Linked DNA regions of Homo sapiens. The protein of the gene in region 1 purifies or fractionates together with the protein of each later gene. This does not show direct contact. Each region holds a gene or a part of one and is shown on either strand. Other genes may lie near its edges.

Evidence for each region. The genes of interacting proteins can lie anywhere in the genome.
Region 2: the proteins of NDFIP1 (region 1) and SLC11A2 purify together in Homo sapiens (affinity purification with western blotting; 2 studies listed by BioGRID and IntAct, with this or other methods). This does not show direct contact.

The regions. Positions count from the first base shown.
Region 1 is NC_000005.10:142,125,268-142,133,215, reverse strand, and holds part of NDFIP1 (NEDD4 family-interacting protein 1), read right to left. Parts: intron 1,409-7,948; coding exon 1,321-1,408; intron 1,005-1,320; coding exon 874-1,004; intron 1-873. UniProt on the Homo sapiens protein: Activates HECT domain-containing E3 ubiquitin-protein ligases, including NEDD4 and ITCH, and consequently modulates the stability of their targets. As a result, controls many cellular processes.
Region 2 is NC_000012.12:50,987,899-50,995,566, forward strand, and holds part of SLC11A2 (natural resistance-associated macrophage protein 2), read right to left. Parts: intron 6,733-7,668; coding exon 6,646-6,732; intron 5,032-6,645; coding exon 4,912-5,031; intron 4,442-4,911; coding exon 4,292-4,441; intron 3,775-4,291; coding exon 3,701-3,774; intron 3,051-3,700; coding exon 2,897-3,050; intron 538-2,896; coding exon 427-537; 3' UTR 1-426. UniProt on the Homo sapiens protein: Proton-coupled metal ion symporter operating with a proton to metal ion stoichiometry of 1:1. Selectively transports various divalent metal cations, in decreasing affinity: Cd(2+) > Fe(2+) > Co(2+), Mn(2+) >> Zn(2+), Ni(2+), VO(2+).

The sequences.
Region 1 (7,948 bases):
AAACTATTTCTACCAAGCAATGATTTTAGGAGCTTCGCTCCTCACAGTAGGTGTGGTCTGCAAACTGTCTACTATCTTAAAGCCAAGAGGGGAACATCTGGGCCTATGCCATCACACTGCCCAGACTAGGCTTCTGTACTTGCTCATCACTCACTCCAGTTACTTGCTAGAATAGAGCCTAGAGGCCTGATGGTCCCCGCATTTCTGGGGACTTATCCTGCTTCCATTCTCCCACAATGCCCTACCTTCATCAGCCTCAATCTGGATGAATATTTACAAAATGACAAATGCAGCACTCACATATCTGACATCAAGAACCAAGAGTGCCCAATAATCTCCACTGGTTTATATGGCATCCCAATCTCCACCTCCATGAATCAACATCAGGCTAGATGGAATCTGAACTCACTATGTCCCCACAAATGACATGATCTGGACTGCTGGAAGAACGGAGTTCATCTAAATCAATGTGAAGATCCCTCTTATGAGTTTAATTCTACAAATTTGCATATATTTATTCTCTTCCTAGACCTCCCTAGCAGCTATCCACCCAACAGCAAAATATTAAGTGTGCAGAATCAAGGAAACATTAGTGTGCTTCTGCTTCAAGATACTTCAGCCATCCCAGGAGACTTGAAAAAGTAGTGGTAATAGGAGAGATGAAGGAAAAATGAGCAGGTCTGACTAGTAATTTACCTCATCATTTTTAAGAAGAGATGAGTTTATTATCCCAAAAGCAAATGTACCTGATTTTTAAAATTAGCTCTACTTTCACTAATCAATACAATCATAAGTAACGAATCAAAATTGGATAATGAAAATAACTTAATTCCCACAGAGCAGCCATCAAGTAACATGGCAAATTATACTCACTCTCCCAGGAACCAAAGGGATAGTAGCTTCAGCCTTGGTCCTCTCCGCTTCATCATAACTGGGCAGTGTTGTAGCTACATTGTAAGATGGGGGCTTTGGAAACCCAGACTCATCCTTGTAGTCAAAATATGCTGCAGAATTTTAACAGTCACAATTTTTTGATGATTAGCTGAATTGAAATAAAAGGAGTTCCACTAACTCTAGCAGACAAAACCCAGCCATTCCCTTAAGAGTACATACATAACAATTGAACCAAAAGACATTCTTAGATGAATGTAAGAGACTGGGGGTGATTTTTAAATGTATCCACTTCTCAATTATTTAAAATCCAGACTTGCTTTGTAACCTTTCTTCCAACTGCTTCTGAAGCTTTTTTTTTTTTAAACTGTAATGTCAAAGCACAGAGTGTTTTTAAGGATTCCGTGATCACCTTGCCCTGTTACCTACCTGCGCTCTCTGCAGAAATGCTGCTGTAAGGTGGAGGAGCATCACCTGCAGCCTGTTCAGGTTCTCCAGACTCTTCTTCATTCTGCAACTAAATAAAAATTTCATATTTTAATGTAAGCATAAAGCCAATTAGAAAGATAAGAACCCAAAAACTGAAATAAATAGCCTTTCTCGAAAGCTATTTGGCAACGTATTTTGAAAGCCTTGAAATGCACAAATCCTTTAAGAAAAGTATTCTACTCCCAGGAAGTTATTCTATGGAAATATTCAAAGAGGCAAAATGGGTACATATAAGTGTTGTGTCAGCAAAAATTAGAAACAACCTAAATTCCAATCATAGGAGACAAATAAATTATAGTACATCACACAAAGGACTACTAAACGGCCATTAAAAATTAAATTTTGCCATCCTGGCCAACATGGCAAAACCCAATCTCTACTAAAAATACAAAAATTAGCCAGGCATGGTGGCACACTCCTATAGTCCCAGCTGCTCAGGAGGCTGAGGCACAAGAATCGTTTTAACCCGGGAGGCGGAGGTTGCAGTGAGCTGAGATGGTGCCACTGCACTCCAGCCTGGGCAACAGAGTGAAACTCTGTGTCAAAAAAAATATACATTAAATTTCAGCCAGGCATGGTGGCTCACACCTGTAATCCTAGCACTCTGGGAGGCCTAGGTGGGTGGGATCGCTTGAGATTAGGAGAGTTTAGGAGTTCAAGACTAGCCTGGGCAACATGGCAAAACAAACCCTGTCTCTACAAAAAATACAAAAATTACCCGGGAGTGGTGGCATGCACCTGTGGTTCTAGCTACTCAGGAGGCTGAGGCAGCAGGATGGCTTGAACCCAGGAGGTCGTGGCTGCAGCGAGCTAAGATTGTGCCACTGCCCTCCAGCCTGGGGCATGAGAGAGACCATGTCTTTAAAAAAAAAAAAATTAAATTTCATTACTCAAATAGATATTTACAGTGTACTATTATTACATGAAAAAAGCTAAACTTGCCAAACAATAGGCATCATATAATCCTTTTTAAAAAGGCAGACATATAATGGAAAGGAGGCCTAGAATGAGACATTTACAGTTCAACACTGTTATTTCTAGGTAATAGGAGTACAGGGGAATTTTTCCTTTTTGTTGTGTATCTGCATGTTCAAATATTTTGTAGTGAATATTTATCACTTGCATACTTTTTTTTTTTTGGAGAGACAGGATCTCACTCTTGTTGTCCAGGCAGGAGTGCAGTGGCACAATTATGGCACACTGTGACCCTGGCTAACTTTTTTTAAAATTTATGTTTTGTAGAGATGGGGTCTTCCTGTGTTGCCCAGACTGGTTTAAAACTCCTGGCCTCAAGTGATGTATACTTTTTTAAAGTTAGAAAAATAATCTGTTAAGACAAAAGACAAATCACAGACAAACCATGTTACCATTATATTCCACATGCACACCAAATTAAATCTTAAATAATTGAGACACTTATGAAAACATAAAATTCTCCCTAATTCTACATATATCTGTCAATAGATATCCCTTTTCCCTATCTCAGCAACTTTTCTGCCAGTCAAATCTTCAATTTTTTAAAATAACTCGCACTGAAAGTGTCTGCTGTTGCTAGTCTGTATAGTCTACACAAGTCATCTTCATAGAATAAAGACATTTCATTTGGTTTTTCCAGTCCAGTGTGACAATGAACTATATTAATTTAAAACATGAGTTGGCTGGGACTAGGAGCCAATCTGAAAATTAATAACAGAATATTTAGTGATATAACTGACGTAGGGGTCTGGTCCTGGCTTCGGTATCATCAGGATATACAGAGCCAACTGACATACTTGTAAAATACATACCACCTCTAAACCATACCGCTACAAAGAACTCTATCTTGAATTGAGACAGAAAAACAGAGAGACCGAGGTGTACTAATGTGAAGTAGAGCTCCATAATCCATTAAATTTTCTTTCTTTCTTTTTTTTTTTTTTTTTTTGAGATGTAGTTTCGCTTTTGTTGCCCAGGCTGGAGAGCAATGGTGGGATCTCGGCTCACTGAAACCTCCACCTCCCAGGTTCAAGCAATTCTGTTGCCTCAGACTCCAAGTAGCTGGGACTACAGGCGTATGCCACCAGACCTGGCTAATTTTTGTATTTTTAGTAGACGTGGGCCAGGCTCGTCTCAAACTCCCGACCTCAGGTGATATGCCTGCCTTAGCCTCCCAAAGTGCTGGAATTACAGGCGTGAGCCATTGTGCCCGGCCACAATCCATTAAATTTTAACTGATCATCTCAATCTCCACTCACTATGCTGTTCAAAACCAGATGTCAATAAATTTTTCTGACTAATACTACAAAAGCTTCAATTTCAAATGAATTCTTGTGTCAAATTCTCATCAGCATCTACCATCTGGGTACATTTTTTCGAATCCTAGTAATCTAATGTTAAACTTAAGGTACTCCCAAAATAGCTGTATTATAACCTAAGATAATTTTTCCTTTTAAACAAAGACATGTGGCCAAAATAGGTGCAGTAAAGCCAAATGCTCCTGGGACACCGAACTAGGAATTACTTAAATAGAGTTCTTGGGACCATGGTTCACCTAAAATACTGGTTTTAACATTATTTGAAGCTCTTGGCAAGGTATTCTTAGCCTCCTCACACCTAACCACTCTTGTGCTGTGGGAAGGTCACCAAAAGAAGCAGAAGAGTCAGCAGCAAGAACAAAGGCAAATACAGACTTTTCGAATATGTTCCCTTAATATACTGTAGCCAGTAATGAACTTCATTTAAACCTAGCTTGGTTTATACTTAACCCGTTTTATATTTCCTGAGCTTGGTGTCAAAGTAATCACGTTACCCCTGCATAATTTAGGTCTCAGAAAGGAAGCATGACAATTCTAAGAAATACAGAAATCCAAAGAACAAAGAGGTTAAGAGGTCTTCTATGACAATATTTATAAGATAGGCTGCCTGTCTCCTGGAAACTTGGAAATGTTAAATTTGATCATCCCCCACCATAGTAAAAGATGACAGTGCAAATAAATTCCAGCCTTCTTAGAACCACCAATTTTCACTTTGGTAAGGAAAAAAACACTTCCAGGTGAAGAGTTTGCTCCACTAAAATTCACTACTTTAGAATAGTGTACTTTTTTCAATTGAAAAATAAAAACAATTTAAAACACCATTATGACTATGGTATAATCCCAAGACCTCACTGTACAGGCTTCTCACTCTGGCTTATTTCTATAATGCTGGTGATAAGATTAGGCTCCATCAAGAAAGCTGTTTAAAACAAAACACTGCAATGTAGGGGGATCGCGGGGAGAGGCAATCACCTTCAAAAAGAGTAAGCACTTAGTGCCTGCCATCTGCATGCATAATAACTTGCTGAACAATGGAATCCTTAAATATACATCTTTTTACACTTCAGGGGCAACAAGTCAGGCATTCACTAACAAGTGGAGGAACCATGTGCGCTAGAACTAGAGTGTGCTATAAAATTGATTACTTGGTTCCAAAATTTATTTTTAAGATTCCCCTTTTCCACCCCTGGGAACCCTTCTGTGCAGCCTCCCTGCCATGTCCCTGGAGCTCAGGGATCTTCGGGCTCTTTCCTGACACTTTCTGAAAGAATACGCGGCATTGTCACGTTTGGGTTAGAGTTGGAAAGATGCTCAGTCTCTTCCATCAACTGGGTCAGTGGAAGCCCGAGTCCAATTTAACTGTCACAGAATCTGGGTTGTAGGGGATACTCAGAGAGACAGATCTGAAAACTGGGACAGATCTGGGAACTTCTGCTCTCAGTGCACAGAGATGTTGGGCAAGGGTAGGGGGGATATCCTTTGAGTGACTGTGATAGATAATAAATAGCTGTTGGACACTGGATTTTTTTTCCTGTCATATAATTTCTGACCAATTTTACTAAACTTCAAATATGATTTATTTTTTTGAGACAGAATCTCACTCTGTCACCCAGGCTGGAGTGCAGTGGTACCATCTTGGCTCACTGCAACCTCTGCCTCCTGGGTTCAAGTGATTCTTCCGCCTCAGCCTCCCAAGTAGTTGGGATTACAGGCATGCACCACCATACCTGGCTAATTTTTGTATTTTTAGTAGAGATGGGGTTGTGCCATGTTGGCCAGGTTGGTACCAAACTCCTGACCTCAAGTGATCCGCCTGCCTCAGCCTCCCAAAGCGCTGGGATTATAGGCGTGAGCCACCATACCCGGCTGAAATATGATTTAAATGGCATTTTTTCCAAATACAGCTATACAATTACCTACACAGGCCATACAAAGTAGAGTTTAATACAGAACTACCTATAACTACCTATGCCTCCATCGCTAAGAAATAAATAATCCAATCACCTGAGAATTCAGATGACCTTTCACTTTCTCACACCCAGAGTGTGCCATTACTCTTTTCCTGATTACCTTTGCTCCCTTCTATGTGCTGAGCAGACTAGAATGGCTCCCCAGAAGAACCCTAAAACTCTTCCTACTTCAGATATGTCACAATCTGCCATGGTGCCTTTGGCCTTGATGACCTTCAATTTTAAGAAAACATTTATTTACAAATAGGTGCTACTAAGGTTTTGTTCTCAAGTCACACCTGTAATCCCAGCACTTTGGGAGGCTGAGGTGGGCGGATCACTTGAGGTCAGGAGTTTGAGACCAGCCTGGCCAACATGGTAAAATCTCGTCTCTACTAAAAATACAAAAATCAACCAGGTGTGGTGGCATGCACCTGTAGTCCCAACTACTCGGGAGGCTTAGGCACGAGAATCACTTGATCCGGGGAGGTGGAGGTTACAGTAAGCTGAGATCAAGCCACTGCACTTCAGCCTGGGCGACAAAGTGAGATTCTGTCTCAAAAATAAATAAATAAATAAAATAAAATAGAGCGTTTTTTTTTCCCTCCTTATCACCTTCCTCTGTATCTAGGTCCTATTGTTATTAAAAATAAATATGACATTTTTATGAATCTCCAACACAGAAATCATATATAGTTCTAATTCTAATAGAAACAAACTTGAATTTAACACGTTTAAGACATTATACCCTACAGATTTAAACTATTATTTGAGTTCCCAATCAGCAAGAAAGCTTCACCACCGCCCTCCTCACTAAGCAGTTCTAAAATGAGTTGTTTTTAAGCAATAGCAGAGCTGGGGCTAGGATTAGGGCTAAGCAAGGGGCAACATTTATAACTGTAGCAAATGGCAGGACCTAAAGGCACTTAAAAGTCATTCTTGGATTATCTATATTTACTAAGAATGAGAGAACAACAAAAAACCCTACACTAAACAAAACCCATAAATCCTTATATATGAGAAAAGGTATCAACATACACCTCAGAATTCATACAAACAAACAAACAAAGCACGTGAAAAATAATGCTGAAGTATCCAGTAAGTCCATAAAGTTGCAAGTATTTTCACTACTTAATTTTTTCTTGGTTTGGTCATATTTAAACAGCAAGAAAATTCTTGTAAGTTTCAAGTCCCTTCTTTAAGTTATTAAAAATAAATATCAGAAAATTCTGGGTCAATGCTTGAACTCTAGTTTTGAATGTTATTTACTACTTCTATCTTAGAGTTAATTGCTAAAACTTTTACCTTAAAATGCAATTTTTAAAGCTCTCATTACCAACCCACTACTTCTGCATAGTCCCTAAATCCTACCAAAACAAGGCAGTATAATTACAAAAAGTAAACAAGCACATTTCTTTTGGTAAACAGCTGAGTATGCTATTTTACTGCTGTTCAGAAATAATCATTAAGTTTGTGTGGCCTGTACATTTACTTTATATATTGTAAATATAAACTCTGTTATTCTAACATCACCAAATTATTTACATTCAAGAAAAATTCTCTATCTAATTGTTATTAATTAGGGGAAGATATTTTAAATAATTCTGACAAGATAAGAGAGACTAAACAATAAAAAGGCAACCCAATTATAAAATGGGCAAATGATTTGAACAGACATTTCTCCAAAGAAGATATACAAAAGGCCAGTAGACACAAAATGCTCAACATCATTAAGTCAGCAGGAAAACGCAAATCAAAACCAAGACTCAATACCACTTCATGCTTACTAGGATGGCTATAATAAAAAAGACAGACAATAACAAGTGCTGAGTATGTGGAGAAACGGGAACTCTAATACACTGCTGGTGGGAATGTAAAATGGTACAGCTGCTGTGGAAAAGTTTGGCAGTTCCTCAAAATAAGTTAAACATAGGCTGAAAACACAGTGGCTCAGCCTGCAATCCCAGCACTTTGGGAGGCTGAGGCAGGAGGATCACTTGAGGCCAGGAGTCTGAGACCAGCCTGGGCAACACAGCAAGATCCTGTCTCTACTAAAAATTTAAAAATTAGCCAGGCATGGCGGCACACCTGTGATCCAGCTACTCAAGACGCTGAGACAGGAGGATCACTTTAGCCAAGGAGTTCAAGGCTGCAGTGAGTCCAGTCTAGTCTGTTGCTCAGTCTGAGCAACAGAGTGAGATCCTGTCTCAAACAAAAACAGCAACACAGATTTATATTAACATCAAGCAATTCCACTCCAAGGTATATACCCAAGAGAACTGAAAACAAGTTCACACAAAAACTGGTACATGAATCTTCACAGTA
Region 2 (7,668 bases), on another chromosome or scaffold:
AAAATCCATTACATTTTGATAAATAAAACTTGCATACTCATTCTGTAGTTTGTATAATAAAAAATGTATTGCATTTTCCAATTTTTTTTTAACATATAGCCTGGTTAAGAATCATGCATATCCTTGTCTCTCCGAAGGATAAACTGAGCTGGCCCTTGGGCAACTACTTAAGAATTTAGTGTTGGAATGATAGCAGCAAATGTCAGCTTTTCAAAGATCCCACCCTAATCCAGTTCTAAGGTTAGGTCAGGAAGGAAAAAATAATTCCATCTTTCAAATACACATGAAACAAAGTCTTTTCCAACCAACGGTTGAGTCATAAACACAGTCTGTGCAACGGCACATACTTTTGGCTATGTTCACACAGTAAACCATAGAAACACACTGGCTCTGATGGCTACCTGCAGAAGACAGACTAATCCAGTGTTATTTAACGTAGCCACGGGTGGCTTCTTCTGTCAGCAGGCCTTTAGAGATGCTTACCGTATGCCCACAGTCCAGGAAGGACATGCCCAGTGCAATCAAACATTGCCAACCCTGAAAGACAAAATATGGTCATCACTCACCAGGCTCTTTGAAGAGCCATGACTGCTCACACAGCACTTCTCAAATGCAAACCTGCTCCCTTCCTTGAACATCCAGCTGTGCCCATCTTCTACCACCAAGGGTTGCACAAGTCATTCTCTCAACCCCACTCCCCCTTCAAAAAATCAGCTGCCTTCCTCAACAAAGTTTGTCCATACTATTTTAAATATTGAATTTCTCTGTTCTTACTGCTTTGTGTCTGTGGTTTTCCTTTTTTTTAAAATCTTTATTATTATTTTACATTTTAGAGACAAGGTCTCCCTCTATTGCTCAGGCTGGAGTATAGTGGTGCAATCATAGCTCACTGAAGCCTCGAATTCCTGGGCTCAAGCAATCCTCTCTCCTCAGCCTCCTGAGTTGCCAGGATTACAGACGCACACCACCATGCCCAGCTAATTTATTTTTTTTTGTAGAGACAAGGTGTCTTGCTATATTTCTCAAGCTGGTCTGAAACTCCTAACCTCAAGCAATCCTCCTGGCTCGGCCTCCCAAAGCACTGAAATTACAAGCGTGAGCCACCTCGTCCAGCCTGTTGTTTGTTTCTTTTACCCAACTGTAAGTTCTCGGAAGTCCACTTTTCCTCAGTCCTCCCCATGATAAGAATGACTAACAGACTAATACAATTGGTGTAGTCTCCTAAGCTGCTCTATGAAGTTCCTGTTTTGAAGTTAAACAACAGTAACCCACTCTAGAATCAGCCCTCTCCTCTCAAAATGGGTCTTCAAGCCAGACACGGTGGCTCATGCCTGTAATCCCAACACTTCAGGAGGCTGAGGCAGGTGGATCACCTGAGGTCAAGAGTTTGAGACCAGCCTGGCCAACATGGCAAAACCCCATCTCTACTAAAAATACAAAAATTAGCCAGGCATGGTTAGCACATGGCTGTAGTCCCAACTACTCAGGAGGCTAAGGCAGGCGAATCACTTGAACCCAGGAGGCAGAGGTTGCAGTGAGCTAAGATCATGCCACTATACCCTAGCTTGGGCGATAGAGAAAAACTCTGTCTCAAAAATAATAATAATAATGGGTCTTCAACAAGCTCATTAGCCTTAGGCTGACTGAGGACAAACTGGCATCTTCATATCCAATTTGCATTCTGAAAGGATCCCCCTAACTTCTATAGTGAATTTTTAAAAACAATTCCTGTCAAGGACACATTCAGTTACTTGGTTTTCCTTGAAGTTAAGTTCCTAGATCATAGGGTCAGTACAGTCTTTGTGTGCACAAAGTTTATTGGGAAGAAAAAAAGAAGAGATCTAGGAAATAATTTTTCAACATTTACTGAAGTGATTTTCTTAATAAAGTATCTAATGTGTGGCACACTGGTGTGGGGAAGTGTTCTAGAGATTAACAGCAGGTTTCCAGCCTCCATCTGTAGCCATTCTCTGCAGCAAAAATGGTATAAATTCTACTATTCCTTATCCCTAACCCCTGTGTCTTTTCAAAGAAACCTGTATAGAACAGGGAAATGGATCTGTTGTTATTTTGGCTGTTTTTCATTAATATAAGCAATGCTAAAGAAGATTTGGAAAATAGAGAAGAATATATCTATAATCCTAGCTTCCTACAACAACTATATTGCCATTTTTATATAATTCTAGACTTCTTAAAAAATTTTTTATAATTGAAATATAAATTTTACATACCTTTTTCATGTAGCTATAGTTTTATAACCATGATTTTTAAAAAATGACTCTAGAATGAGAGAGTCAAGGGGAGACTATCACTATTTAATTATTTCCTTGGACAGCTAGTAAGTGATGGAGCTGAGTGGGGCTGTGTGCCACATGTGTCCCACCCCGAATCTCTAAATCACACTGCATGCCCTATTCTCCACCTCTGTTTTGTACCGTTCTCCACTCTCTGTACTGCTACCCTTCTTTTAGTTCCTCAAACATACTATACTCTCTTGTTAGGAATTACTAAGAATGGAAACTACAGAAGTGACAGAAATTGAAAAATGACAAATCTTAGTAACCAAAGTGAATTTTATGGTTAGAAATATTATTTTGTAAACAGCTGATTTGACAATTCCATATACATTGTCTCGATCACCTGGAGGTAGATTGTTATGTGCTCTTTTGGGTCTGTTCATTTCTCTTTTTTTGTAGAGATGGAGTCTTACTATGTTGCCCAGATTGGTCTCTAACTCCTGGATTCAAGCAATCCTCCCGCCTCAGCCTCCCAAAGTACTGGGATTATAGGCATGAGCCACTGTGCCCAGCCTGGGTCTGTTCATTTCTGAATGTCAGTGAACCCCACCTCAACCATCCCTGATACCTATGCCCCTGCTCTTCCAGGCTAGACTTACCAAGTAGAACACAAAGCCCAGATAAGCCACGCTGACCACAGCAGCCACCACATATAATGCCACATGCCCTAGGTCCCGGACATAAACCACTACAAAGTACATATTGATGGAACAGATGATAAGGACCAAGATTCCTCCTGCAATCCGCCAGCCTCTGTAAAAGAAATCAGCACAGTCACTGATGGAATAATCCAACTTGGCCACAGACAGAAAAGGAAACAGGATGGGAATTAGAGGCAGTTCAAAATGAATGGAAAAATTGTTCTTAATTTGAAAAAAAATGATTCTTCATAAGTCTAAGTTAAATCACCCAAAGTTAGATACTGGTAGACAGGGAGAAAGAGGGGGGAAAAGACACCAACAAATAATCCCTAATATTTAAGTCCCTAGAGATGCAACAAGGCCTAGAAACGCAATGAGCCATTTTATTAACGTTCCCAAAAATGCAACAAGTCACTTCAGATACCTCATATCCTTTAAAGATATATATAAAAGGTACTAACTTATGCCTTTTTTGTTAAGATCATTTAACAAAGAATTAAGGTGCCTCAAACTTCAGTGGCTGAAGCTGAAGAGTTATGCTGTAAAAGCTGAACTTTCTCTCCCCTTCATATGAAAGACGTGCTTTCTCTTCCTTTACTATATTCACAGTTTCCATTCTCTAAGCCAAAGAGGAAGCAGCTAGCAATCACCTCTCAAAGCATATCGCTTCCCTCTGTGTCTCACGTCTGACTGGCCTACTGCATGAAGATACCCTTTCCCCATATCAGCATCCCCTTTGGGAACGAAGAGGAGTACACTCACAGTCCATTGGCAAAGTCACTCATTACTGGCCGCAAGCTCGTAAATGTGAGGATGGGTATGAGAGCAAAGGGAAGCTGGAAAAGAAAGAAGATCAGATGGGATTACTATGGGTCCTTGTATCACCCTAGAGAACAGCACAATTAATGAAAGGGAAACATAAATGCTGCCTCAACTACTCCATGAGAAATAATTATTCCTATCATCCCAACATGCTTGGGCATTATGCTGAATTCTGCAGAGCTGTCATTAACCTAGCATACAAACCTTTGTATGTGACTTGTCTTCTTAACCTCCACAGGACCTAGCACAGTGTCCTATATGTTCATTTAATGTTTGCTTGCATTAATGAACTACAATTTTGTGTCCCATATGTAAGTAAAGTTCATAGTTCCCATTCAACAGGTTTAAAAAACCAACCATTTCTAAAATCCTTTTAGATGCCAAGGATTTCATATACATTTACTGCAGACCACAACCATGCCTCTGTCTTCCTCTCAATATCCCCCCAGCACTCAGCTAGGCTTGGTACCCAAGGGCAGTACATAATGCTACCTGAATAACTAGGATGTGTTTCCTCAGCTTCCTCCTCACCTGTAAGCTCTGTAGAACATTCAGAAAGTCATTCATCCCTGTTAGATGCTCTACATCTTGGAAGACAGCAACAAGCAGAGTGGGGATGATGGCAATAGAGCGAGTCAGAACCACTCGGGCAAAGCGTGACCACTTTAGGTTCAGGAATCCCTGGAAGAAAACATAGGAGCAGATGACTGTCTGCAACAGGAAACAAAAAAAAGTTTTGGGGAGGTTCAGGAGAGACCTCAGAAGAATGGGATTAAGAAGTGACAAAAGGGGCCAGGCGCAGTGGCTCACGCCTGTAATCCCAGCACTTTGAGAGGCCAAGGCGGGTAGATCACTTGAGGTCAGGAGTTCAAGACCTGCCTGGCCAACATGGTGAAACGCCATCTCTACTAAAAATACAAAAAATTAGCCGAGTATGGTGGCCAGAGCCTGTAATCCTAGCTACTCGGGAGGCTGAGTCAGGAGAATCACTTGAACCCGGGAGGTGGAGGTTGCAGTGAGCCGAGATCATGCCATTACACTCCAACTTGGGCGACGAGTGAGACTCCATCTCAAAAAAAAAAAAAAAAGAAGAAGAAGAAGAAGTAACAAAAGGGTTGTGTTATCTCCCTCTATCCTATACCAGCACGTACCTCCATGACAAACTGGCCAGAATAGGTTCCTGTCATGGTGGAGCTCTGTCCTGCAGCCAGGATCCCCACTGCCCAAATGTAGAGTGCAGCAGGCCCAAAGTAACATCCCAGCACAACACCCTGTGAGAGGCCAAGAGGAAGGATATGATTGTGGCAATAATCTGCTCAGACAATATCCAAAACAGCAGTTCCCTGTGGCATTTCTCCCTTCTTTGCTATGCACCACCAACACCAAGTGCTGTGCTGCGCACTGTGCCAGAAGCTAGGCTCAAGTCTGGACCTCATTCCAGAAGCTTTCAGTCTAAACTTTACTGGATGCTCCTTCGTTTCTCTGCCTAGTCCTTTCTCTTCTCCAAGCTCCTAAACCTCCATCTTAAATATTAAAAAAAAAAAAAAAAAAAAAGAGGTCTACACCACTTTCCCCAAATTATATTCCTTTACACACTATTCTGGAAAATGGCAATAGAAGTACAGGGAAATATCAAATAAATTGGTGAAATGCTACACACTATATATTCTACTGTTGGAGGATCACAATGTAACCAGCATAAAAGAACTGAGAGACTCCAGTAAAAACACTTTACTAAGAACACTTTCTTGGGGCTGGGTAGGGTGGCTCACGCTTGTAATCCCAGCACTTTGGGAGGCCAGGGTTGGAGAATCCCTTGAGCCCAGGAGTTTGAGACAAGCCTAGGCAACATGGCAAATACCCTGACTCTACAAAAAAAATACAAGGCCAGGCATGGTGGCTCACACCTGTAATCCCAGCACTTTGGGAGGCCGAGGGGGGGGTGGATCACCTGAGGTCAGGAGTTCGAGACCAGCCTGACCAACATGGAGAGACCCCCATCTCTACTAAAAATACAAAATTAGCCAGGTGTGGTGGTACACACCTGTAATCCTATCTACTTGGGAGGCTGAGGCAGGAGAAGCACTTGAACCCGGAAGGCAGAGATTGCAGTGAGCCAAGATCACGCCAGTGCACTCCAGCCTGGGCAACAAGAACAAAACTCCATCTCAAAAAGAAAAAAAAAATAGCCAAGCATGGTGGTGCTTGCCTGCAGTCCCATTACCCAAAAGACTGAGATGGGAAAATCACTTGGACCAGGTAGGTGGAGGCTGCAGTGAGCCATGATCGAGCCACTGTACCCCAGCCTGGGCAACAGAGCAAGACCTTGTCTCCAAAAAAAAAAAAAAAAAAAAAAAAAGCTGGGGTGTATACTGCATCTTTTTTTTCCTTTTTTTTTTAAAGACAGAGTCTTATTCTGTCGCCCAGGCTGGAGTGCAGTGGCCCAATCTCGGCTCACTGCAACCTCTGCCTTCCAGGTTCAAGCGATTCTCGTGTCTCAGCCTCCTGAGTAGCTGAGATTACAGGTGCCCACCACCACATCCAGCTAATTTTTGTATTTTTGTTTTTAGTAGAGACAGGGTTTCACCATGTTGGTCAGGCTGGTCTTGAACTCCTGAGCTCAAGTGATCCACCCGCCTCAGCCTCCCAAAGTGCTGGGATTACAGGCGTGAACCACCGCACCCGGCCTGTATTATATATCTTTTCAACTGATCCTCTATTCCTTCCCATTTAATCCAAAATGCTTGTCTGGTGTCTGGAACTCTGAAATAAATGACACTCCAGAGGAGATATGCTCATATCTGAAGTGAAGTCACAAAAAAGACCACATACTATGCTAAAAATACTGATTCAGGAACAAAGATCACAAATCCAAACATGCTTACCCCTTTGTAGATGTCCACAGCCAGTGTCGAGTTATCTTTAGGAAAGAGGCCAGCATGAGGACTGCTGGTATTTGTACAGACTTCAACCTAGAACCCAAAGCAATTCAACAGCAACTTTTGTTTCAGAAGCAAGGACCAAATAAGAGCTCTCCTACATATCATACACAATCATCTATAAGAGGTAGGCTGGAGGGAAAACACTGGACATATGCTGTGATGTGGGCAGAGACTAGCAGCAATGTTATCTAGGATCTTCCTCTATAATCCTTCTACACCCACAGGTCATCAAAAATCTTTACTGAGTTACAGTGTGCATGGTAATAATGTACAAACGCTGGGGTACTTTAAATGATGACAAGAGGAGAGGCTCTGAAGAAGGCTTCAGACATGAGAGAACACCCAGAATAGAATCCTCAGTCAAAGCAGACAGAGGAGTCAGAGGTTCCATAGACGGGAAACAAATGGTGATCAAAACTACACAGGCAGGCCAGGCACAGGAGCTCACGCCTGTAATCCCTGTACTTTGAGAGGCCGAGGCAGGTGGATCACTTGAGGTCAGGAGTTTGAGACCAGCCTGGCCAACATGGTGAAACCCCATCTCTACTAAAATTACAAAAAATTAGCTGGGTGTGGTGGCAGGCACCTGTAATCCCAGCTACTCAGGAGGCTGAGGCAGGAGAATCGCTTGAACCCAGGAGGTGGAGGCAGTGAGCCAAGACTGTGCCACTGCACTCCAGCTTGGATGACAGTGCAAGACTCCGTCTCAAAAAAAACACTACATAGGTAATCAGAAATCAAGATTGATACAGAATTCAAAATGACAAGACAAAGTCTGTCATCATCACAGTTTCTGTTTTCTGTTTGTTGACTACTCCCAAACAAAAGCTGAGAAAGAGGGTCCAGGCTTGGTCAGCCCCATACTGTAGACTCTGACTGGTGCACAGTGATTTTGGGGGGCAGACGAGAAGCTAGAGATTATTTCTCCTGAACATTAACACTAGGATGAGGTATTTTCCTTCCCCA